Linked DNA regions of Homo sapiens. The protein of the gene in region 4 purifies or fractionates together with the protein of the main gene of each other region. This does not show direct contact. Each region holds a gene or a part of one and is shown on either strand. Other genes may lie near its edges. The genes, in order: HLTF, UBN2, UBN1, PAX5, BEND3, NFS1 and XRCC1.

Region 1 (3,500 bases), on a different chromosome or scaffold from region 4:
TTTCCTGTCATAAAAAGTAAAAGCCAAAGTCCTTGACATATGCGTTACATACCCCCATTCCAATAAATCTCTGATATCATGACTATTTTCTCTCGTTCATACTATCCAGCCACACTTGCTTCTCTGTTATTCTTCAAGCTCACCAGGCATGTTCCCAACTGGGAGCATCTACACTTGCTCTTCCTTCTGGCTGAAACACCCCTTAATCCCAATCTCCTTTAGATCTTTACCTATATATCATCTTCTCAGTGAGGTCTTCCTTAATACCCTACTAAAACAGCTTTGGCATTCCCCATCCCCTTTCGTTGCTTTATTCCTTAAAACTTAATCATGTTTTTAAATTATCTGTTTCTTCCCATTAAAATATAAATTCCTCGAGTGCAGGCATTTTTGTCTGTTTTATTCTGCTGTATCCCAATGGGTATAAGTGCCTGGCACACAGTGGGCACTTAATAAATTTTTGTTGAAAGAATATGAAAAGAAAGAAGATTTTGAACTCAGAAATCTGCTGCTTAGAACAATCTTTCCCACTCTCTCTAATTCCTATCAAACCTGCTTTGTACCTACCTCACTGAAGTTTTTATGTTTTGAAGATTCCCCTTTCACAGTCCTATTCTGCTTTCACTTGTCTCTTATTCATTCTGTTCCCTGTGGGCTCACATTAAACCTGATCTTGCTTGGACCAGAATTTCATACCTTCTACCAATCCTTAATCTTCTTGTTAAACCTATTTCATCAGTTCCTATTTCCAGATTTCCATACGATTTTGGAAATAGAAGCAAGCAAAATCTTCTGGCTAGCAATTGAGAACTTGTCATTTAAAGTAAGCTTTAAATTATTTCCTAACTTAAAAAATTACTTACCTGGTGAATTATACTATTATTTCATTCACTTTATTGATTTGTAAAAAACACTGTAATTCATAGAAGCAAATTATCTTTCAGTATACTTCAAACTATTGCTAACACATCTAAATAATGTCATTCAGTGAATGGGAAACAAAGTAAACAAAAACTAATTTTTAACATGGTTTTCTTTCTCCATACCTTCCAATAGTGGCTCTGCCTTCATTTTTCACAGACTGATAAATCTTTCTCTCTTCATCTGAAAGTGTAATGTGCTGAATAAATACTTTACGTTCTGGTAACTCCAAAACAGGTTTTCCTTTAATTTTGCTTGTCTTTGTTCTTCTAAGTGTAATATTTTTAATTAGGGACTGTAAACGCCTAATCAGAATAAAACAAATAATTATGTAACTTTTAATTTCTACATAAATTGATCCAAGAAGAACGAAACAGAACATTTTAATTTGTTACTGTTTTATAGCTTCTGTAAAAGTGTTTTTAAAATCCCTTATTTGGGATTTTAACCAATCTGATAATCACAGAAGTATTCTACAAAAATAAAATTATTAAAACAAATGTATGGAAATTTCCCCTCAATACCTAACATAGTTTAATCTTTTTATATCCTGTCCTTATTTTCGTAAGTTCTGTTCCCCATTTTTGTTCCAATCACTAACTCTTTTACTTCTCAACTGTCCTGTCAACTCCATCACCGAATAGTCAACACTCAAATTCTAAGTATCTATTAAGTGCCAGGCACTGAATTAAATGTTGTAAGAATACAAATATGGGTAAGATACTACATTCTGTAATATTAAAATCAAAAGTATATAAATAAGTAATTGTATAAAGTAATGAGTGCCCCCAAAATAAAAAGATAATATGGTAATTCAGAACACAGAAAAATGCTTTACAGGTTCCACAATCTTTACATTTCTTTCTCAGTACTGGAAAAAAAGAGATGTATCAATTCTTGTTTTTTCCCAACATTGAAATATAAATACAATTTCCTGGAGTTTAAATAGTTGGTTTTGAGGAATCAAGTGGATAGTACTGCCAACTAGGTTAGTGGCTCTTGAAGCTTTCTCACTATAACTCACAGTAAGAAACACATTCTATCCAGCAAAAATATACAAACACATACAAAAGAAACAAATATTTCACAAAATAATACTTACTATGTATCATGCACTCCGATATTTACTAATCTCTTCTCTATTTCATTGTCTTTTTAAATGCTGGCTACCACCTTTATAATGATTTTATATCCCACTAATAGCTCTCAAATCTTCAGTCTATAAACCGGTGCTTTAGCCAAAAAGTTGAACCACATTACATCTTGCAAAATGGCTATCACTGAGTTTTAATTTATGTTCTCAACTTTTATCTATCTCCACCAGAAACAACCACATAAAACTTTCCTATACAACTTTTGCTAAGGTCATGGTACCTCACATCATTCACTATATAAAGCTATGTAAGGCCAGGTGTGGTAGCTCATGCCTGTAATCCCAGCACTTTGGGAGGTCGAGGCAAGAGGATAACCTGAGGTCAGAAGTTTGAGACTAGCCTGGCCAACATGGCGAAACCCCATCTCTACTAAAAATACAAAAATTAGCGGGGCATGCTGGCGCAGACCTGTAATCTCAGCTACTTGGGAGGCTGAGACAGGAGAATCGCTTGAACCCAGGAGGCGGAGGTTGCAGTGAGCCAAGATCGCGCCACTGCCCTCCAGCATGGACGACAGAGCAAGACTCCATCTCAAATAAATAAATACATAAATAAATAAATAAAGCTATATAAGATATGAAAACTTAATGCATATTAGATCCTCAAAGGATATACGATGTTTCCTGCTAAATCTGTTAATGCTGGTTTTGGGGCTTTGGGGCTTAGCAACACACAAAAAACAGTTATGTCTTTCCTTTCAGTTTAGCCACAACAGGGGAAGGGTAGTTATCGACAATTAGAAATCTTTGTCTTTCCAAACAAGCATCACTAGGTTCTGAAAGACAAAGGTACTGAGCCATAAACACTTTTTAGAAGGAAAAGTTAAGAGTCAAGTTAAAATAGTAAAGAAAGTGCCAACTGGTTCAAGCTACTAACAGTTATTTGTAACTAATATTAATCACTGTCTGAAAGTACTTACCTAAGTCCTCCTTCATCTCCCATTGTGACAGGACGCTGTATTGTTCTATGCCACCATTCTCTATCAATAAATGGTTTAAGTTTTAAAAAGGAAAGAAGAGACCACAAGTCCTTTAAAGAATTCTGGATTGGAGTACCTAGAAATAACAGGAAACTGTTATAACTCTTTAACCAGAGTATCCAGTAAGAGTATCTATTTGGCCCAATCAGAGAAGACAACAATTGAAAATGGGCACTCTGTACCAGGCTCATCATTATCAATTAAATTAAACTATCAAGTGTTGACTATAATCATTTATTAAAAATATACACATCTCAAGATACAGTTTTGCTCTAATTTTTAGCTCTCACATGACACACTAGCCAAGAAAAAGACTGGAAAATTCAACTTTCTCCTTATCAAGTACATCTGCTTATTTAGTTTTTAAAGCAGCAGCACTAGCAGAAGGAAAAAGCAACTAGTTTAAGTTTACATTCTTTTCCTTACCTTCTAGTAAAGGTACTGTG
Region 2 (2,250 bases), on a different chromosome or scaffold from region 4:
TTTCAAGTCCTGACCGTAGTAGCACCATCAAATACACACATACCCTATTACCCAAAAAACCTAGAGTGAGTCACAATCAAGGACTCCCACGCTCTGCCTTCCTCTACTTGTCCAAACATGCCCCTCACAGCAAATGCTCCACCTTCCTGATTTGGCCAAATTCCACCAGTTCTTGGAGGCCCACCTCAAGTGCCATCCACTGCACTGAGTCTTCCCACATTACTCCAGTCCCGTTTCTTCCCCACTGTGAACTCAAATGTCAGGTAGCAATGGAACACAAATGGACCAAAATGTAGCTTTGTGACAGATTTTGAACCATTATCTTTTAACTTATCATGTGACTGCAAATTGTGAGTATACTGGGAGGCAGGAGACTGGGTCCTTTACTTCTTGTACCCTATAAACCTAGCACAGTGTGATATGGACAGCAGATACTCCCCAACAGCTGAGAGTGTGATGTTAGAACCCAAGGTAACTCAATAACACAACAGACACGAGGATAGTATGTACATTCCTCTTTATTTAATACAACAACAAACACGTAACATATACAAAAAGAAAAAACACTCATTAAAAGGCCCTGTCACAAAGGATAGACAGGAAACATCTACACTGAATCAAATAAGGCTCTTGCTTCAAAAACAGGGGTTTGCTAGCTACACCTGGAATATGAGCAAGGCTGTTGCAAAAAAATTAAAAAAAAAAAAAAAACACAAAAATCCCTGCACTGAAGGAGTATATTCATGGGGGTAATTTACTAAATTCACAGGTCCATATTTAGGAATGTTTATGCCCTCTCACATATCCAAAATTCATCAGGGTTTTATGAAATGTGTGATTTTTTTTTGGTTAAAAAAATTTACCTGCCCTTCTTTTTTCTTAGGAAGGAGTGATAAGAGCTTTCTAAAAACTAGAGACAAGCAAACCATCCAAAGTGTGAAATGTTTTACCATTAAAGTTCAAAGGGCACGTAGAACTGAGAATGCAAAGGCAAGATGGCAGTGGGAAGAAGAACGTGACTTCTGCGTCATTTCCTGGTAGCTAGCGTTTAGTTAACCAAATGGAAATACCTCGGCTCAGTGCAGGGTTCAGTAGCAGCAGTTTGTCCATATTCCTGCTCCGATTTGAGCTGGAAATTAAACAAGCACCAGTTCATCTCAAAAGAGCCTTATACAAACACACACGCACACATACCCGCACCCATTCACATGTCATCACCACCCCCTTTTATTTAAATTTATTTTTTTTTTTTTTTACTAAAATACAAAAAAGGGAGACAGGTATATTTACAAAAATCCATGGCTGGTACAGTACATAATTTTTAAGACACACTAAATGCTACAATCTTTCAGGTCCTGAGATTATTACAAACATCAACTCAAAGCTTGTGTTCAGGTCCAGTTTTTAAAGGAGGAAAAAAAAATCCCAAAATATTAAGTCACACACTTATTTGAAATACAGTATATCCCTTCAAGTTAGCAAAAACACACCTCCCTATAAGCAAATGCAATACAGTAATTCTTGTCTTTCACCTAGAGGACCATCAACTCTTTAGGCTCCTTCAAGATTGGTTTTGAAACATGTTGGCATCTATGTCAAGTGTGGAGGTGGCTAATGTATGAGGAAGATGTAACTGGAGGGAAGTTCCTCTGCAGAGTGAACATTCACTGTATAAATACATCCTGTTTTTCCTTGGGCTACCAAACAAGTCTTTCCCTTATCAAAATTCACACCGAAGTATGTGTTTACCCAGACTAAAAATCAGAATCATTATTTCCAATCAGTTATAGCAAATAGGTCTGGAGTTCGGTAATCATTTTTACAACTGCAAATGAACTTTCTTGCTTGTAATAAAAGAGAGAAAACATCCATTACTTAGTTACCTTGGTAGACTTGGATTAATATATTATTTGGGGCACAAAATTTTCACCAGCTGGAGATCTATTTTCTTCTTTTAAGTTTGAGGGTGTTTAACAAGTGAAATCCAAGGGCAAGCCCCAGATTTACATACTCTCTGAAAGACCAATTTGGTATTTTTGATACTTTCTGAAATAAAGTAAGTTTTCAATGACAATCAACAAAAGGGCAGTGCAAAGCTTGAATCTTTTCTCTGGAGGCTTGCCATGGATCACAGGAAATACTTGTAGGCTGGGAACCTACCTCTAATGGGGAAAGGCCCATTGATTATCTGAAGGTCTCAGAAGGTATATGTAACTAATTACAAAGGCATAGCCAAGACTCAAAAATAGG
Region 3 (3,500 bases), on a different chromosome or scaffold from region 4:
GGAAGGGACTTCCTTCTGGAGACTCACTGAGCAGATGCTCCAAGTCCAAATCCGTCAGCGAGTCCATGGCAGTGGCCGCCTGGAGCAAGTCGTTGTCAGAAGTAGAGCCAAAGAGTGAGAGCAAGGGGTCAGAGGCACCCTCCAGTTCCCGCAGGCCCTGAGCTTCCGCTGATGGGACCGCAACAGGCTTATGCTCCTCCTCCCTTTTTTTCTGAGCCTCTTTCTCTTTCTGAAATTTCTTTAGCATCTCTTTAACGCTTAAAGCCCCAGAATATTTCTTCTTCTTCTTCTCCTTACTGGCATTGAGGGCTGTGAAGCTGCAAGCAAGAGGGAAACTGGTCACTCAGACTATAGGACACCTCCAAAGGGAACTCCAGAGGCCTTCACCCCTGCTCCCAGGGTCATGGTCTCCAGGAGAACCTGTCACAGTCCACCCTGTCATTCCTCCTCCCTCCTCTTGGCATATGGAGCTCGTTCTTGCTGAGACCAAAGCTTGAGAGTTAATACAGGTTAGCAACACAGTGTCACATATGCTAAATTTCCGACGGGTTTTTAGAAACCACTGCCAGGCTGAAATAAAAGGTTGCAAAAAGGGGCAGGGAGAGCAAGAAAAGTATTTAGAGGGAGAAAGCAGGAGCAGCAGAGAACAGCAGCAACTTGAAGAGAAGCTGGGGTGAGACCAAGTGAGGAGAAGGAAGCATGACCATAGACAACAAGGGAAAACAGCGGAGACAGAAGGAGAACTGGGGCAGAGAGGAGCACCCCAGAGGACGAGAAACATCAGCAGTCACACAGTGACAACAATAGCTGCCAACACTGACAGTGGAACTATCTGACACACTGAGAGGTGAGCGTCTATGCCCAGAATGGCACTGCGGGAGGCGTGCGGGAGGACAGGAAGGCCAGGCCCTGCTGCCTCTTCCGAAGCTGTGGGGAGGAGGTGAGTCAGCTCCCAGTCGTCCTGCCCTAACAGTTCAGGCTTTATCCTAGCAAAGAAGCTGCTGCCTCTCACCCGGCTTTGGAAAACTTGGACTTTTTCGATTTCTTCTCCTTGTCATAAGTGTCATCTTTTTTCTTCTTCTTTATCTTCTCACCACCTTCCTTCAACTTCCGCTTCTGAGAATTAAAGACAAGGCACAGTTACACGGCTCCCTAACTCAGGGAGCAAGTGCACTACACGGCACTGGCCTTGCTCCGCCCGGGGCACATCCTGAGACCTGTCTCATTTCCTTCATGAACAAAAGCTCTCAGATCAGTCCCTGGACCACAAACCCACAGCATTCCCACCGACGGTGTCTCCTGGAAACACCCAGGGCTGAGACAACAGTGACCATTCTGGAGCCTGAAACCTTTGTAGTTTGAAAGTTACAAGTGGGCCCTACCTCTCATCTTAAACACATAGGCAGTGGTAGACAGGTTTTTAAACACACTGATCCTAAGGCTGACTGGTTTTCAGTGGGATGGCAGCCCTGAAACTGAAGTCCTCTACATGTCCACAGAAGAGGGTCAGCAAGAGTGGTACACATTCCCTCATTCCACAGCCTTCCCACCCTGAGGCCACCTCCAGAAACGACCCCTGCTGAGCCTGCTGGGATGTCATGTGACATGGACATAATGACCAAGTGCTGAACAGAGCCCCCACGGGCACGTGTCCTCATTAGGGCACACGTGTAAGAGGCGAGCCATCAACCTGGCACGGCTCTGCCTTTCCACCATCCTCCTGAGCCGGCCAAGCGCCACGTATTCTGGCAAGTCACCTACTGATCTGATAGGGTCACGTCAAAAAGCATTTCTGAAATCCAAAAGCAAGCACATTCTAACCTTTGGAGATTTTTTCTTCTTTTCTTTAATGAAGTCATCTTCAGACTCTGATGCTTGTCTAAACTGCAGGGTTCCCGAGTTAATGTAAAATCCTCCATACTTCGTAGTCAAAGAAGCAGGAACAAGCTCATCATACTGAAGATGGGAAACAAACTGTCAGCTCCAAGTTCTGCTTCTGCAGTCCGAAGGTGCAAAGTGGGTCTCGAGAGAGATGTGACTGTGCTCCTCTGCCACTTCCAAGAGCATGCTAAAACATCCTCTGGTCAAACATGAATGTCTGAGCTACAAGGTGTTTTGGACAGATCTGGTCATCACTTTCTGAAGAGGGAACTAAGACCCGGATAAAGAATGTCATTTCGTCTCTCATCAGTGCTGCTACTGCCTCATGCTGGGAAGAGGGCACGACTGCTCTGACCCCACCCCCAGCTTCCTGGTCAGTATCAGGAGGAGCTACAGGTACAGTGGGTCTGACACGGCATTTTCAGTAACTACTTACCGCCTCAGAGTTATCGATGAAGGAGTCGGATTCATCATAACCATACCCCATATCGATCAAGTCCTGTATTCGGTCTTTTCTACGTTTCTTTCCACCCTAAAATGTGAAAGCAATAGATTACATGCTTTTTGAATAAACACACAGAATTAACTGTGGCCTTGAACTTCATCAGCTATGACTCAAAGAGGTAATGCACTAACTAAAACAGTCACTCTCTCACATACACACAAACCCCAAAACCTCCTTTCCTGAAAACCTTTTAACATAGAACATATTTGTACCTGTATAAAATGTCCTAGGACAGAAAAATGAACTAAATGGCTTCTTATGCTTTGTACCAAAATATTTCTTCTAAGGCGACCACAGGCCCTTCTCGGTTATTTGTCCAGTTAGCTCTTCACACTAGCTCTGCCATGCCCCTTTTCTGTACCTTAATGCGTTAGGTTTAATAACTGCTTCTCTTCTCTCCATGCTTAAGGCTTACTTCCAGATCAGTGTTTATTACATGATGATCCACTAAAGGAATACAGTGTGGAAACGTCTCCCACCCAATGAGGTTGTTTTGTTATTCAAGAGAGAAATCTTACGTATTTTTCTTCAAATTTTCGGGCAAGGGCCTCTACTTTATGCCTTTCCTTTTCTTCGTCATTGAAAGGATCTGACAGATCTTTCTTCTGTAAAGAGATCGTTCCACAAAAAATAAGTCAGAAAATATTCCCATGTTCTTATTCATAGAAACTTCACTGATTACTCAATACCTCTATAAAAACAATGTTTTCCAGAAAAGGGCAAGGTAGAAAACATGCTACCATCTCATCAATGTTTATCTTAATTAAGAAAGTAAAATTTCCCTTAATGTAGGTTAATAAAACTTGATTGAATGCCTACAATCATCCACCACAGCATGAGGGGCTGCAGGACTCAAAGACAGCAAAGGGCCTTTAGAAGGAGATGCCCAGTCGCTACACAACCACGTTCAATAAAGTGGACTTCCTTTGTAACTCTTAAAATTTTCTTCAGGCATTTAAAAACATTCTAAGAAAGAGTCCATTGACTTCCAAAATAGTCAAGGGCTCAAAAACGTGAAAATCCCACTGAATGTGGTGCAAGTTCTTGAGAGCCGTTCTGCCATACTGTTTAGAAAGGTCTGAATTTGCACTTCTCTCGGTGCTACCAAAGTTAA
Region 4 (3,500 bases):
CTCCACCAAGCCAATCAGAGTGGCGTCAGCCGGCCCTGGCCCGAAACACCGCCCCATTGGCTAAGCAGCCCACAGGCTCCGCCTGATTAGCGGACACCTGGGCAATGGGAGAGAATGGGGGGCGGGGCCCAGGCGGCGGCGCCACGTTCATTGACAAACGCGCTGGACTAAGGCCTAGTGGATCGCGGCTGTGGGGAGGGGAAAGGGGCCCACGCAGTGCCTGGAGAGTCCCGCTGCGGGTCCCACGCGGGCTGGACCTCCCCACAGCGATGCTGGGATCCTGGGACGCTCTCAAGGCTTGAGAGCAGTCGATTGAAGGGTGAGAATGGGGGAAGTCTCCAAAAAAACCAAAAAACAAAAAATGTATGTTGGAGGAAGACAAGGAGCGCAGTAGGGATCCTGTACCATCAGGCTCGTGATGGGATCGGATTGTGTGCATCGGAGTGTGTGCATATCTGCCAGTTCTGACCTCACTTTCCTCTTCTGTAAAATGGGCAGAGTGGGGTTAACTAGATTTTACTGAAGGCTCCTTCCACGGAAATATTTCCTAATTTTATTTCCTAATTTTATCAAGTACCTACTAAACCACCACTGGCTCCTCGTCGTCCACCCTCCTCCCTCACTCCACCTGCAGGGCCCTCATTGCTGCATTAACGAAAGGCAGAGACGTTGGGGGAAGGGGGAGAATATCTCACACTCCTTTAAAGTTAGTAACTGGGGCGCACCAGGGCGCACCTGGGTGGAGGGGCTAAGGCTTTGGGCCAGGTTGCCCAAGCAGAGTGGCTGGCCCTCTTTCCTGCCTCAGATCAGGAACTGCCAGAGGCTTTGGGAGCTGGTGTTGCGCTTCTGTCCACCGGAGAAATTCCGCACCCGGCTCAAGGCTTCTTGAGAACCGAATGAGCCAAGTCGCGTCCAGGGCTAATAAGGGTCCCTGAAGCGGGCGGGTGGACAGGCGCATTCTATCTGCAAGGGTCAAGCAAAGCGGCCAGGCGCGCTGCAATGCGGCAGCTTCCAGTTGATGGGAAACTGACCTTCCCTCTACAGGGGAAGTTCCTGTCCCTATGTAGACAAAATGGATGGATTTGTAGCAGAACTCTCTTGCTACACAAGGGATCTTTGACTAGCGAGTCCGCTTCTTTGTGGGTTTTAAGGCTCTGAGACAACAATCAAAGAAACTGGACCTTGAAAAGGAAGCGTGTGACAGTCATTCTTCACCCAAGAAGCTATAGTTCTGTGAGCCATCTGGGCCCTGGCTCAAGAACGACGCTGAGGATTCCCTTGCCCCAGCAACTCATGGGAGTGGTCCGAAGACTCAATTTCTATTTCATGAGTGATGATCCGCTAATATTAAACATAAATCCACAAAACAAGGGCTTTGAGATGCCTGCTCCAGGACTGGGCTTGTAAGGAAGAGTACAGGCTGATCATGAGAGGATTCCTGGGTTATCCTCTTGTTTTATTCTCTGCCTCGGTTTCCCTTCCTCTGCCTTCTCTCTACGCATGCTCTACTTCTCAAACTCCTACACTGGGGTCGACTCTTGGGCCCACCTTCTGTCCCTGTTCCACACCCAGCTGTCCCTGACCAGTAGACAAGTTTCCGGCGCTGACACCCGTCCCCACCCCCCACCAGGGCACAGCTGCGGAAAACGGCCCCAGGCGGGACTCTGGGGACCCAGGAGGCTGCAGTGCGCGCCGGGGTGGAGTGGCGGCGTTATCTCTTCTTTGTCTGGAACCCCGCCTGTCCGGATCTTCCCCTTTCACCCCCGGCCTTGGAGCAGGAAGATCGCAACAGCAGAGAGGGACTGGGATGGAATAGACTTCCTGCACTGGCTTCACCCGATGGCGCCCAGTGGGTCGGAAATAACCAGAATTCAGATCCTCGGCCCAGACTCAACATGGCGGCTTGCACACCTACTGGAGAGGCGGGAGTGCGGGACGCCCTGAGGGATGCAGCCAGTGACACCCCCACCCCCAGCCTCTCTTGCTGAGCTCAGGCCTACAAACCCAGGTTCTCTAGATTCTTAGAGCTAAAAGGGCCTCGAAGCTATGCTTTCTCCATTTCACGGGTGCAGAACCCGAGGCCCAGAGGCAGGATACGACTTGTCCAAAGTCACACAGCAAGTCTGGGGTAGAAGAAAGGCTGCGGGCTGGAAACCTTTCTCAAAAGCGCCTCTCCAGAGCCGCTCTCGGGATGGTGGGGGAGGGGCGATGCTGCCAAATCGAAGAACTCGGCTGGAATATGCCCGCACACGCAGGTTTTCCTTCGGATACCCGTGAGGCTTGCATAGAATCCCCGGGGCACGGCCCGAGCAGGAGTAGCGCCGATTCTCCCTTTCACACAGTAGGTGTTCGGCTTCGGGACAGTGTTCTGCTGCGTGGCACACACAGGACCCGTCTTACCTGTGCACCCAGAGCAGCCCCTTCCCGCAACTCTCGGCGTTCTTGGGGGAAGGAGTTTCCCTCTGGATAGGGGTGATTCATCACCGCCCGAGCGGGCGGCCTCTGGGAAGTTCCAACCCCAAAAGGCGCGACCGGACCTCATACCGTGACCACCTAGCCCAGCCTTACAGGTCACCAAACGACAGCCCAGAGAGGTTACGTGACTAGCTCGAGGCTGCACAGCAAGTCCATGGTGGAGCCGGGCTACTGCGCCTCAGTCCTGTCTCTGAACGCCCACGAGCCGCAGCCTGGGTCCAGGAGAGCGAGACTAGCAGCTCTCACCGCGGCTCTCAACGCAGTCGGGCCTCACTCTGATCTACAGTGATGCGCTTTCTTTCTCCCAGTAACAGGGCTTTGGGCCGGGCCCTGTGCTAGGCGCTGGGGGCAGGAGACCGCGAAAGGAAACTATCCAGGAAGAAACTCAATTTATGTGAACCGAATTGCCTTTGAAAGTTTTAGTACTGAAAGACAGCCCATTGAGAATAATGTGTGAGAAGCCAGAGACCTCGTTTCACTGGGGACACACCCCCTCCCGGCTTCCCTTTCCACGCCTCCCAGCGCACTGCATTACCGTGGCTTCAGGATGTGGGGGCTGCTACAGTGTTCTAGTAGCCTGACATCGACTCTCTCAACCCAAGTCCAGCCCATTTCCCTGTTCTTGCTTCTGACAAAGTGAGGCCCAATAGGGCTCAGACTGGTTGCTCAGTTCTGGAAAGATCAGGGATGCTGCCAGCATGGCTGTCTCAACCCACTGAGTTCTGTCTAAACTTCATTTTTAAAAAATAAAAAAAATTAAGTATCAGAGGGAAAGAAATTGACCTGAAATTATACAGCAAGTGGAGGCACAGCAGATTCCTGCATGATTCCTGCCCCTGGATCAGGAGTCTGCTCTACTTGACCTGTCCCTGTTTTCAGGAGTTCTTGAAGAGGATGGAGAAAAAATGAGAATTTAACCAGGTTTTTCAAGAATCATGTAAAATCACCTTAGTCGGGGTGTGTTATCATTACCAGCATGTCCTGCAGGCCAGGGGCGCTGGGACTACTCTCTCTCCCAAAGACTT
Region 5 (3,500 bases), on a different chromosome or scaffold from region 4:
GCTCACCTCAAGGGAGAGCAGGTCCACCTTGCTGTGCAGCTGGGACATGTTGGACGTGAGGGTGTTCAGCATGTAGAACATCTTCTGGATCAGGAAGTAGATGTTGGGGTCGTTGTCAGTGCCTGCCCCGGTGCTGCCACAGTCCCGCTTCTGTGGCTCATTCAGGAGCCGCAGTGACGAGGGGCTGTTGCTGGCGTTTGCCTTCTCAAAGAGCTCGTACACGTTTAGCAGGTCCCCCGAGGGAGGATTCTTCTTCTCCATGATCTTGTGCGAGATGCCATACAGAGGCTTCTTGTAGGAAGGGGTGGTGGCATCGTTGCAGGGCTCCTCCTCTCCAGGCCACACATTGCCCAGGCTCCTGCCCCTGCCGGCCTGCTCACCATTGCCTTGGCAGGGCGAGCTGTTCTCACGGTTCCGCATGCCTGCTAGGAGAGCCTGCAAAACAAAAATCATTTCCCAGAGTGTTAGGTGGGTGCTGTGGTTTATGACACTAAACAAGGGTCTGTGTAGCACACAGAGGCCGAGGTCAACCTTGGGAGCATGTAAGAAACTGATTCCTCACCCTGAATCACTCTGTCATCCAAGGATGCACCACTGATACAAACCTGCATCCCCACCACCCCAAACCTGCTGCTCTCCCCATTCCCTGAGAAAAGACTCAGGCTGGGCCCAGGGAGGCTTTGCGCTCTCACAGGGCACCAGCAGTGGACTTCCTTTCCGTCAGAGGGCTGACACTGATGCTGGCAATACTGGGCAAGAACTCTGCAAGAAACAGGAGGAAGAGCATAGGAAGGCAACGGGCTTGTGCAGCTGCCGGCCACGGGCAGGTCACCCCATGGACCCGTGCCTTCGTCTGCTCTCAGGAAGGGACAGAGATTCCTACCTATGGTAGCTCCCAAAGGCAGCAGTGTGTCCTTTTAGCCTGCAGCCTTTGGGAGAGCAGGCGTCCCTTTTCGGGAAGGCTCATCTGGGATGCATGGTCGGGGCACCTGAGAACTGGGCTGTGGAGAGCGGCTGTCTGATGCCAACTCCACCACTGCCTGAAATCACATCTTAGACCAGAAAAAGCCGGCCCAGAACTTTCTGGCCTGTGCAACTGTGAGACAGTAGAAACAACCCCCCGTTTCTGAAAAATCCACAAGTATATAAACTATGTTATATTCATACAATGGAATATTACTCAGCAATAAGATATTATTGATACAGTACACAAAGTACTCATGATAAATCTCAAAATAAATAACAAAAAAGAGGTCGTAGTGTATGATTCCATTTGTGTATGTACAATTCTAGAAAACGCAAGCTTGCCTATAGTGACAGAATGCAGATAGTCATTGCCTAGGGATGGCAGGGAGAATTCGATGGGACACAGAGAATGAAATGGAGAACGTCAGTGGGTGACAGATGTTTATCATCATGACTGTGGCTGTGGGTTCACTGGTAGACACGTGTCAAAACGTATCAAATTGTATACCTTAAATATGTATCCTTCTTTGAGTTTCAGCCATAACCTAATAAGCCTGTTTTTGACAAATGTTGAATTCGACCCAGATACTTATGTAAATGTATATTTGAGTTTTAGGAAAGCAGATGAGCTAGTCAGTGAGCGCTGGTGGGTGTCGGGGGAGCAGGGAGCCTTTGCTCCCACTGACAGGCATGTGCCTCGGGCAACTGGGAATGGACAAGAACAAACGGCATCCTGGGGTGCTTCTCTCCACACTTGGGAAGAGTACAGGTGGCTGGGACTGGCCTAGCCCAGCGCTTCTTAAGCTCTAGTGTACACACTGAATCACCTGGGGTCTTGCTGGAATGCAGAGTGTGAACCCTGGGCCTGCATCTCTAATAAGCTCCTGGGTGCTGTGGCTGCTGTCTATCCTCTCTGAGTAGCCAGGGCTTGGCAGTCAGTGTTTGCTCTCAGTTTATCTCATCCAGGCAGATCAGGGTTATTTGAAAGTTTTCAGGTAACTAATGCCAGCACAAAACAGTGCATGAGGTGTTTTTCTCTGCAGCCTCAGCCAACGTAGGGAAAAGAGACAACCTCAGAAGCGAGGCTTCGTACAGCAAGTGAGCTATATGAGGCTGAGAATAGGCAGATCCAGGGGGAATAGAAACCAAGAGCCCAAATAAACAGAAAACTTTCATCATTCTGAACCTTCCATGTGTTCTTTTTCATTTAAATTAATGAACGGCTGGGCGTGGTGGCTCACGCCTGTAATCCCAGCACTTTGGGAGGCCAAGATGGGTGGATCTCCTGAGCTCAGAAGTTCCGCCAGCCTGGGGAACATGGCGAAACACTGTCTCTACTAAAAAAATACAAAAAAAATTAGCCTGGCACAGTAGTGTGCACCTGTAGTCCCAGCTACTCAGGAGGCTGAAGTAGGAGGATAACTTGAGCCTGGGAGATGGAGGCTGCAGTGAGCTAAGATCTTGCCACTGCACCCCAGCCTGGGTGACAGAGTGAGACCCCATCTCAATAATAATTAATAAATTACTTCCTAGACTCTCTCTTTTGGATAATAGAATAATCTGACTCATATTAGAGAAATGTTAATTCTTCTCTTGTGCCCCCATGAGGACAACCATGCAAAAGAAAAACTACTCCCTTAGTGACCTTATAAAGGGACTCGTAAGTGCATTAGTTATCACAGAGCTGGCCAATACTTCCTTCAGGGTTTGTATGTGTATGTATATATATATATATATATATATATATATATATATATATATATATATATATATATATATATATGTATGTGAGCAAATGGTCAGTGGCAACTGGCCCTTGTGGACCCCACTCCCCACCCCTCCCCTCTACAGCACTCACAGGAGCAGAGGACCAAGGACATACCAGAGTGGAGGCAGCCTGTCAGGGGTGGCCAGCCACCTGCCCCACTCCCTCTGGGGTCTCCTTGCCAAGCTGTCCCCATCCTGTCAAACTGCATGATGGTTGTGCGATGGGACCACGTTGTTCCTGAGTCTATCCCCAGTGCCTAGCAAAGTGCCCAGGGTACAGAAGAGGTCAATGAATTTCTGTCAACCACACGTGAATAAAGCAGGGCAAAGTGTTCCACCATTCTCAAATACATGCTTAAGAAAAGTGAGGCCAGGTGCAGTGGCTCACACCTGTAATCCCAGTATTTTGGGAGGCTGAGGCAGGGGATCTCAAGCCCAGGAGTTCAAGACCAGCCTGGGCAACATGGTGAAACCCCACCTCTACAAAAATAAGCTGGGAGTGGTGGTGTGTGCCTGTAGTCTCAGCTACTCGGGAGGCTGAGGTAGGAGGATTGCTTCAGCCTGGGAGATTGAGGCTTCGTAAGCTGAGATCACACCACTGCACTCCAGCCTGGGCAACAGAGCAAGACCCTGTCTCAGAAAGAAAAAGAAAAGGAGAAAAAAAAGAAAAGGAGCTGTTCTGATAAGAGCACTGGCATGAAGGTGTGGCTAAGAACTCAGCTCAATCAGCAAGCATTCTGTTTGTGACCTTGTAAGCCTCACCTTCC
Region 6 (3,500 bases), on a different chromosome or scaffold from region 4:
TTAGCTGGGTGTGGTAGCAGGCTCCTGTAATCCCAGCTACTCAGGAAGATGAGGCAGGAGAATCGCTTGAACCCTGGAGGCAGAAGTTGTAGTAAGCCAAGATTACGGCACTGCACTCCAGCCTGGGTGACACAGCAAGACTCCCCCTTGGGAAAAAAAAAAAGAATTAACAGTATCAACTTTGCAGAACAGGATCAGGGACTGGGGTCCTTGGGGAAGGAGAGGAAGATTTACACTTCATTTTATTTTATTTTTGTTTATTTATTTTTTGAGACGGTCTCATTCTGTCACCCAGGCTGGAGTGCAGTGGTGTGGTCTCGGCCCACTGCAACCTCTGCCTCCCGAGTTCAAGCAATTCTCTTGTCTCAGCCTCCCGAGTAGCTGGGACTACAGCCACCACACCCAGCTAATTTTTTGTATTTTTTAGTAGAGATGGTGTTTCACCATTTTGCCCAGGATGGTCTCGAACTCCTGAGCTCAGACAACCTGCCTGCCTCGGCCTCCCAATGTGCTAAGATCACAGGCTTGACCCACTGCACCCGGCCTACACTTCATTTTAAATCTTTCCATTGGTTTTAAAAAAACACACCATATGTGACAGAATTATTTTTCAAAAATTAAAAACTTGGAAAGAAAATGTGCATCTCTCCCCAGAGCTTATAAAAGACTATTACCTTTAACAGCAGAATAAAAAGCCAGGTGCAGTGGCTCAAGCCAGTAATCCCAGAACTTTGGGAGGCAAAGGCAGGAGGATCACATGAGCCCAGGAGTTCAAGACCAGCCTGGGCAACATAATGAGAGCCGCATCTCTACAAAAATTAAAATAACAGGCCGGGCGCGGTGGTTCACACCTGTAAAACCAGCACTTCGGTTGGCCAAGGCAGGCGGATCACAAGGTCAGGAGATCGAGACCATCTTGGCTAACATGGTGAAACCCCATCTCTACTAAAAATAGAAAAATTAGCCAGGCGTGGTGGTGGGAGCCTGTAGTCCTACCTACTCAGGAGGCTGAGGCAGGAGAATGGCGTGAACCCAGGAGGCAGAGCTTGCAGTGAGCTGAGATCACGCCACTGCACTCCAGCCTGGGCGACAGAGCCAGGCTCCATCTCAAAAAAAAATAAATAAATAAATTAAAATAACAAAATTAGACAGGCGTGCTAGTACACGCCTGTAAGCCTAGCTACTTGGGAGGCTAAGATGAGAGGATTGCTTGAGTCCAGGAGTTCAAGGCTCCAGTGAGCTGTGATTGTGCAACTGCACCCCAGCCTAGGTGACAGAATGAGACCATGTCTTTTTTTTTTTTTTTTTTGAGACAGAGTTTCGCCCTTGTTGCTACAGTGCAATGGCGCAATCTCGGCCCACTGCAACTGCAACCTCTGCCTCCTGGGTTCAACTGATTCTCCTGCCTCAGCCTTCCAAGTAGCTAGGACTACAGGGGTGTGCCACCACACCCAGGTAGTTTTTGCATTTTTAGTAGAGACGGGGTTTTACCATGTTGGTCAGGCTGGTCTCGAACTCCTGATCTCAGATGATCTGCCGGTCTCAGCCTCCCAAAGTGCTGGGATTACAGGTGTAAGCCACTGGGCCCGGCTGAGACCCTGTCTTATAAAAAATAAACACATAAATAAAATAAAAGCAGAATATTAAACCATATAGGACAAAATTATAACTATGTAAAAATGGTCTGTTCATGAGGACAAAGAACATAAATGAGAAACATTTATAATTGATTTATACTCTATTTTATCCTAAAAAGTATTTACATCAGTAAGTAAAAATGGTTGTGGGGCACTTTGGGAGGCCGAGGAGGGCGGATCACGAGGTCAGGAGATCGAGACCATTCTGGCTAACACAGTGAAACCCTGTCTCTACTAAAAATACAAAAAATTAGCCGGGTGTGGTGGAGGGCGCCTGTAGTCCCAGCTACTCAGGAGGCTGAGGCAGGAGAATGGCGTGAACCCAGGAGGCGGAGCTTGCAGTGAGTCAAGATCGTGCCACTGCACTCCAGCCTGGATGACAGAGTGAGACTCAGTCTAAAAAAAAAAAAAGAAAAAATGGTTGTGGGATGGTGATGATAGTTCAAAATGTTACAGTTGTTTATAAAAATTTCATTTAAATGACATTTCACCACCCACCCACCTTATTTTATCTCAGTTACCCATGATGTAGATTTCTTTAACAATTTATAGATTATTTTACTCTACCAATCATGGAGATTAAAAGAAACATCATCACAGGTACTCTTAGCGATCCTTGACCTGTTGGTTTGGAATCTGTGGAGACTTCCAAAGAAAATATTTTCGAAGTTTTGAAAATGCTCTCCATTTCAGAAACCATCTCCACCTTTGGAGGAACCTTCACCCCGACTCTCTGGTCTCTGCAGTCCCAAGGAAGGATGCCTTCCTGTTAACATGATCAGGCAGAGTGCTGATGACCCTGAAGCCCGTCCTAGGCCTCCTATATTCAGGCCAAGGTCAAAGAAACCAACACTGGCAGCACAGTTCAAAGACAAAGATGAGAGCAAGTGGAGCCAGAGTTCAAAGTACAGCAAGCCACAATTTCTCAGAGCCTTGGCATTTACTCACATAATCCTGGCAACCAGGCCCAGTGAAATCTGACTATGTTCTATGAAACACCAACGTGACTACTAAAAGTACCTTTTCCTTGCATTAGCACCAAAGATCTTCTATGTACCCAGGACAAAATGACTGATCCCAGAATGGGTGACCATGTGAATGCCTGCAGAGGGCACCACAAAGACAAGCACTTCAAAATGGAGATATCTAAAGAAACAGGAGGAACTTGTTGCAAATAGATCTGATCAGAAAGAAAAAGGAAGGCTGAGAGGAGGACAGCCCTGAAATCACATATATAACTTGTTGTTACTAGATAAAAAGAATGGAGAAAGGCCGGGTACGGTGGCTCACACCTGTAATCCCAGCACTTTGGGAGGTCGAGATGGGAGGATCATCAGGTCAAGAGATTGAGATCATCCTGGCCAATATGGTGAAACCCCATCTCTACTAAAAATATAAAAATTAGTTGGGCATGGTGGCGGGCACCTGTACTCCCAGCTACTCTGGAGGCTGAGGCAGGAGAATCACTTGAACCTGGGAGGTGGAGTTTGCAGTGAGCTGAGATTGCGCCACTGCACTCCAGCCTGGCGACAGAGTGAGACTATGTATCAAAAAAAAAAAGAAGAATGGAGAAAAGGTTCAATCACCATTATCCACTCTCTGAAGTAACTGCCAGACAAAAAAAAAACAAGTGGTTAATGGCCTGAGGGCCACCTCCTTTGCTATCCAACTGCCTCACTCAACTCAGACCAACAGCAGCAAAGACTTAAGAAAGAGTAGACTGCAAAGGGTTAAAGGAAGCAACAAATCAGAAAGACTGCAAGCCTTCTCTTCACAATGGGGTGGGGATGGATGGCTGCGAAATACATATACGAGTCCAAATGATGGAGGGACACTATCTCCTAGGTCAGGAAAGCCCACATA
Region 7 (3,500 bases), on a different chromosome or scaffold from region 4:
CAATGCCAGGAATCTGGAGGGGAGTCAGACTGGGGCCTGCCAGCGGAGAACACAGGTGGTCCCAGCCCAGAGCCAGCAGACTACTGAGAGGAGCGGGGCAGGGGCTGGGGTACTCCAGATGAGGGAAGGAGGACCTGCCTGGGAGGTCACAGAGGGCTCTGTGAAGCCTGCTTATCAGAAAAGGCTGGAGGAGCAGTTTGTGCAAAAACTCAGGGGTGGGAGAACAAGTGTTAGGGTCCATATTCATTCATTCAAAGTGAGTCCCGGTGCAGTGGCTCACGCCTGTAATCCCAGCACTCTGGGAGGCTGAGGCAGGTGGATCACTTGAGGTCAGAAGTTCGAGACCAGCCTGGCCAACATGGTGAAACCCCATCTCTACTAAAAACACAAAAATTAGCTGGGCTTGGTGGCGCACGCCTGTAATCCCAGTTACTCGGAAGGCTGAGGCAGGAGAATCGCTTGAACCTGGAAGCCAAAATCGTGCCACTGCACTCTGGCCTGGGTGACAGAGCGAGACTCCCATCTCAACAAGAAAAAAAAAACCCAAAAACCAAAATGAGTCCCAGAAGCCCCTGCTTGGTGCCAGGCTGGAATGTGCAAGGCTGAGGATCCAGTCATTGAGCCCTGCCCTTGAAGGCTTCTCACTTTGATGAGGGATCAGAATTGTTGTAACAGTGCAGTGGAAGCCCCACAGGGTGGCCCGCAGAGAGCGAGGGGTCTTCAAGGTCCAAGAGAGGTTTTTCAGGCTGAACAGAGGCAGAGAACATGCTGGGCAGAGGAGACAAGGTCAGGTCAGCCTGTTGTCTGCCTGGAGTTGTAGGTGAGGCTGAGCTTACACAGGGGCAAGAAGTGGCAGGAAAAATGGGACTGGGGCATTAGGAACCACAGAAGGCTTTGGACTGAGCAAAGGCTAGCTCATATCTGAGGTCCATGAATTGGAGGGGAGACTGGATTGTACTCCATGGCCTGAGTGTGTTCAGAAGTTAGTTGTACCTGGTGTATTTGAGAAATTATTTGCCTTGGGGGATAGCGAGGCTGTGAGGTGGGTGGGCTCAGGTCAGAAGGGGCTTCCGGAGCCCAGGCTACACACTGGGCTCCATGCAGCTTCACAGAACCCTCATCTGTTATTCAGGAATCCAAACATCTCTAGAAGCTGAAAGTTCTTTTCTAGGTTCAGCACAAACTCATTTCGCTGCAGTCATCCTGAACTAATGTGAGGCTATTTGCGGACTTTTTTTTTTTTATCCCCTTAAGTGTGTCATGGTCTTAACTGCAGAAATATTAGTGGGTTTGATCATGGGGTGCTCCCCCAGGCCCTCCTGGGAGTTTATGTAACAATCTGTATGCCAGCCATTTGCCTCTCTAAAACCTGAAAGATTCAAAATTCTGAAGCCCATCCAGCTCCAGAGGCCTCCTCTTGTGAGCAGAGGGGAGTCACAGAAGGTTTGATGGGGGCAGGGGCAGGCTCTGTTGGGAGGGATGAAGTGTCAAGGGGAGGCTGCAGGTGGGGACTCCTGAGTAGGCTGGGGCCTCAGGAACAGAAGAGGGGATGGGCTGGTGCTATATCTGGGGCAGAAGGAACCAGATTTGGGTTATTATCTGCCTGGGAGAGCTTAAGGAGGGCATGAAAGAAAGGGAAAAAGACAAACAGTGTTGGATTTGCAACTGGTCTTAACAAAAAGAATTCACAAAGCATTTTATATTTTTAAAAATTCTGGCTTGTACTCATTTATAAACTAAAAAAAAATAACTATATGATGCAGGCAACGTGGTGAGACCCCATCCCTACAAAACATGAAAAAAATTATCCAGGTGTGGTGGCACATACCTGTAGTCGTAGATACTTGGGAGGCTGAGGTGGTAGGATCACTTGAGCCCAGGAGGTTCAGGCTGCAATGAGCCATGATTGCACCGCTGCACTCCAGTCTAGGTGGCAAATCAAGACCTTATCTCAAAAATAAAAATTTGGCTGAGTGCAGTGGCTCACGCCTGTAATCCCAGCACTTTGGGAGGCCAAGGTGGGCAGATCACGTGACATCAGGAGTTTGAGACCAGCCTGGCCAACATGGTAAAACCCCATCTGTACCAAAAAATACAAAAATTAGCTGGGCATGGTGGCGCACACCTGTAGCCCCAGCTACTCTAGAGGCTGAGGCAGGAGAATCCCTTGAACCTGGGAGGAAGGGGTTGAAGTGAGTCGAGATCATGCCACTGCACTCCAGCCTGGGGACAGAGCGAGACTCTGTCTCAAAAAATAAAAATAAAATAAAAATTCAACTATAGAAGGAAGACCCCAAGAGGATGACTCTCCATACCTAATAAGCACAAATTTAGTTTTTTTTTTAATCTTTGAATAGAGCACTTTGAAGAAAAAGTTAAGTAAACCTGCTATTGACTGTTAATGAACTACTACATTTTAAATCCTCTGAATCTCCTGTAGGCACCGTTTTATGAGTGTGACTTACCTAAACAGCATTTCACCAGCTTGAAAACAACCAAATTAAATGCAGAAGGGTCTTAACATGTATGTCTCAGAAAAATGGAGCTAATACATTCATTTGTGTCTGCATACCTTCCCTGTGGCTTAGGGCAGATTAAATAATCTCTCTGTGCCTTAGTCTCCTCACCTGTAAAATGGGGCCAAAAATAGGACCTACCCCAGGATTCAGTGACTCAGTATTTGTCACGTGCTACCTGGCATGTAGGAAGTCCCATGTAAGTGTCAACCTGCTACTGTTGTGTTTTTTTTTTTTTTTTTTTTGATCATTCTTGGGTGTTTCTCACAGAGGGGGATTTGGCAGGGTCATAGGACAATAGTGAAGGGAAGGTCAGCAGATAAACAAGTGAACAAAGGTCTCTGGCTTTCCTAGGCAGAGGACCCTGCGGCCTTCCGCAGTGTTTGTGTCCCTGGGTACTTGAGATTAGGGAGTGGTGATGACTCTTAATGAGCATGCTGCCTTCAAGCATCTGTTTAACAAAGCACATCTTGCACCGCCCTTAATCCATTTAACCCTGAGTGGACACAACACATGTTTCAGAGAGCACAGGGTTGAGGGTAAGGTCATAGATTAACAGCATCCCAAGGCAGAAGAATTTTTCTTAGTACAGAACAAAATGAAGTCTCCCATGTCTACTTCTTTCTACACAGACACAGCAACAATCTGATTTCTCTATCTTTTCCCCACCTTTCCCCCTTTTCTATTCCACAAAACCGCCATCGTCATCATGGCCCGTTCTCAATGAGCTGTTGGGTACACCTCCCAGACGGGGTGGTGGCCAGGCAGAGGGGCTCCTCACTTCCCAGAAGGGGCGGCCGGGCAGAGGCGCCCCCCACCTCCCGGACGGGGCGGCGGCCGGGCGGAGGCGCCCCCCACCTCCCTCCTGGAGGGGCGGCTGGCCGGGCGGGGGCTGACCCCCCCACCTCCCTCCCGGATGGGGCGGCTGGCCCCCCACCTCCCCCCCGACGGGGCGGCTGGCCCCCCACCTCCCTCCCGGACGGG

The links.
Region 1: the proteins of PAX5 (region 4) and HLTF purify together in Homo sapiens (affinity purification with mass spectrometry, with the first as the bait; one large-scale study listed by BioGRID). This does not show direct contact.
Region 2: the proteins of PAX5 (region 4) and UBN2 purify together in Homo sapiens (affinity purification with mass spectrometry, with the first as the bait; one large-scale study listed by BioGRID). This does not show direct contact.
Region 3: the proteins of PAX5 (region 4) and UBN1 purify together in Homo sapiens (affinity purification with mass spectrometry, with the first as the bait; one large-scale study listed by BioGRID). This does not show direct contact.
Region 5: the proteins of PAX5 (region 4) and BEND3 purify together in Homo sapiens (affinity purification with mass spectrometry, with the first as the bait; one large-scale study listed by BioGRID). This does not show direct contact.
Region 6: the proteins of PAX5 (region 4) and NFS1 purify together in Homo sapiens (affinity purification with mass spectrometry, with the first as the bait; one large-scale study listed by BioGRID). This does not show direct contact.
Region 7: the proteins of PAX5 (region 4) and XRCC1 purify together in Homo sapiens (affinity purification with mass spectrometry, with the first as the bait; one large-scale study listed by BioGRID). This does not show direct contact.

The regions. Positions count from the first base shown.
Region 1 is NC_000003.12:149,045,034-149,048,533, forward strand, and holds part of HLTF (helicase-like transcription factor), read right to left. Parts: intron 3,131-3,500; coding exon 2,995-3,130; intron 1,227-2,994; coding exon 1,047-1,226; intron 1-1,046. UniProt on the Homo sapiens protein: Has both helicase and E3 ubiquitin ligase activities. Possesses intrinsic ATP-dependent nucleosome-remodeling activity; This activity may be required for transcriptional activation or repression of specific target promoters.
Region 2 is NC_000007.14:139,306,487-139,308,736, reverse strand, and holds the end of UBN2 (ubinuclein-2), read right to left. Parts: 3' UTR 501-2,250; downstream 1-500.
Region 3 is NC_000016.10:4,857,481-4,860,980, reverse strand, and holds part of UBN1 (ubinuclein-1), read right to left. Parts: intron 2,992-3,500; coding exon 2,905-2,991; intron 2,414-2,904; coding exon 2,318-2,413; intron 1,957-2,317; coding exon 1,822-1,956; intron 1,117-1,821; coding exon 1,013-1,116; intron 318-1,012; coding exon 1-317. UniProt on the Homo sapiens protein: Acts as a novel regulator of senescence. Involved in the formation of senescence-associated heterochromatin foci (SAHF), which represses expression of proliferation-promoting genes. Binds to proliferation-promoting genes.
Region 4 is NC_000009.12:37,027,769-37,031,268, forward strand, and holds part of PAX5 (paired box protein Pax-5), read right to left. Parts: exon of another isoform or gene 1,152-3,500; intron 320-1,151; exon of another isoform or gene 177-319; intron 1-176. UniProt on the Homo sapiens protein: Transcription factor that plays an essential role in commitment of lymphoid progenitors to the B-lymphocyte lineage. Fulfills a dual role by repressing B-lineage inappropriate genes and simultaneously activating B-lineage-specific genes.
Region 5 is NC_000006.12:107,070,516-107,074,015, forward strand, and holds part of BEND3 (BEN domain-containing protein 3), read right to left. Parts: intron 436-3,500; coding exon 1-435. UniProt on the Homo sapiens protein: Transcriptional repressor which associates with the NoRC (nucleolar remodeling complex) complex and plays a key role in repressing rDNA transcription.
Region 6 is NC_000020.11:35,692,853-35,696,352, forward strand, and holds part of NFS1 (cysteine desulfurase isoform a precursor), read right to left. Parts: intron 1-3,500.
Region 7 is NC_000019.10:43,548,028-43,551,527, reverse strand, and holds part of XRCC1 (DNA repair protein XRCC1), read left to right. Parts: intron 1-3,500. UniProt on the Homo sapiens protein: Scaffold protein involved in DNA single-strand break repair by mediating the assembly of DNA break repair protein complexes. Negatively regulates ADP-ribosyltransferase activity of PARP1 during base-excision repair in order to prevent excessive PARP1 activity.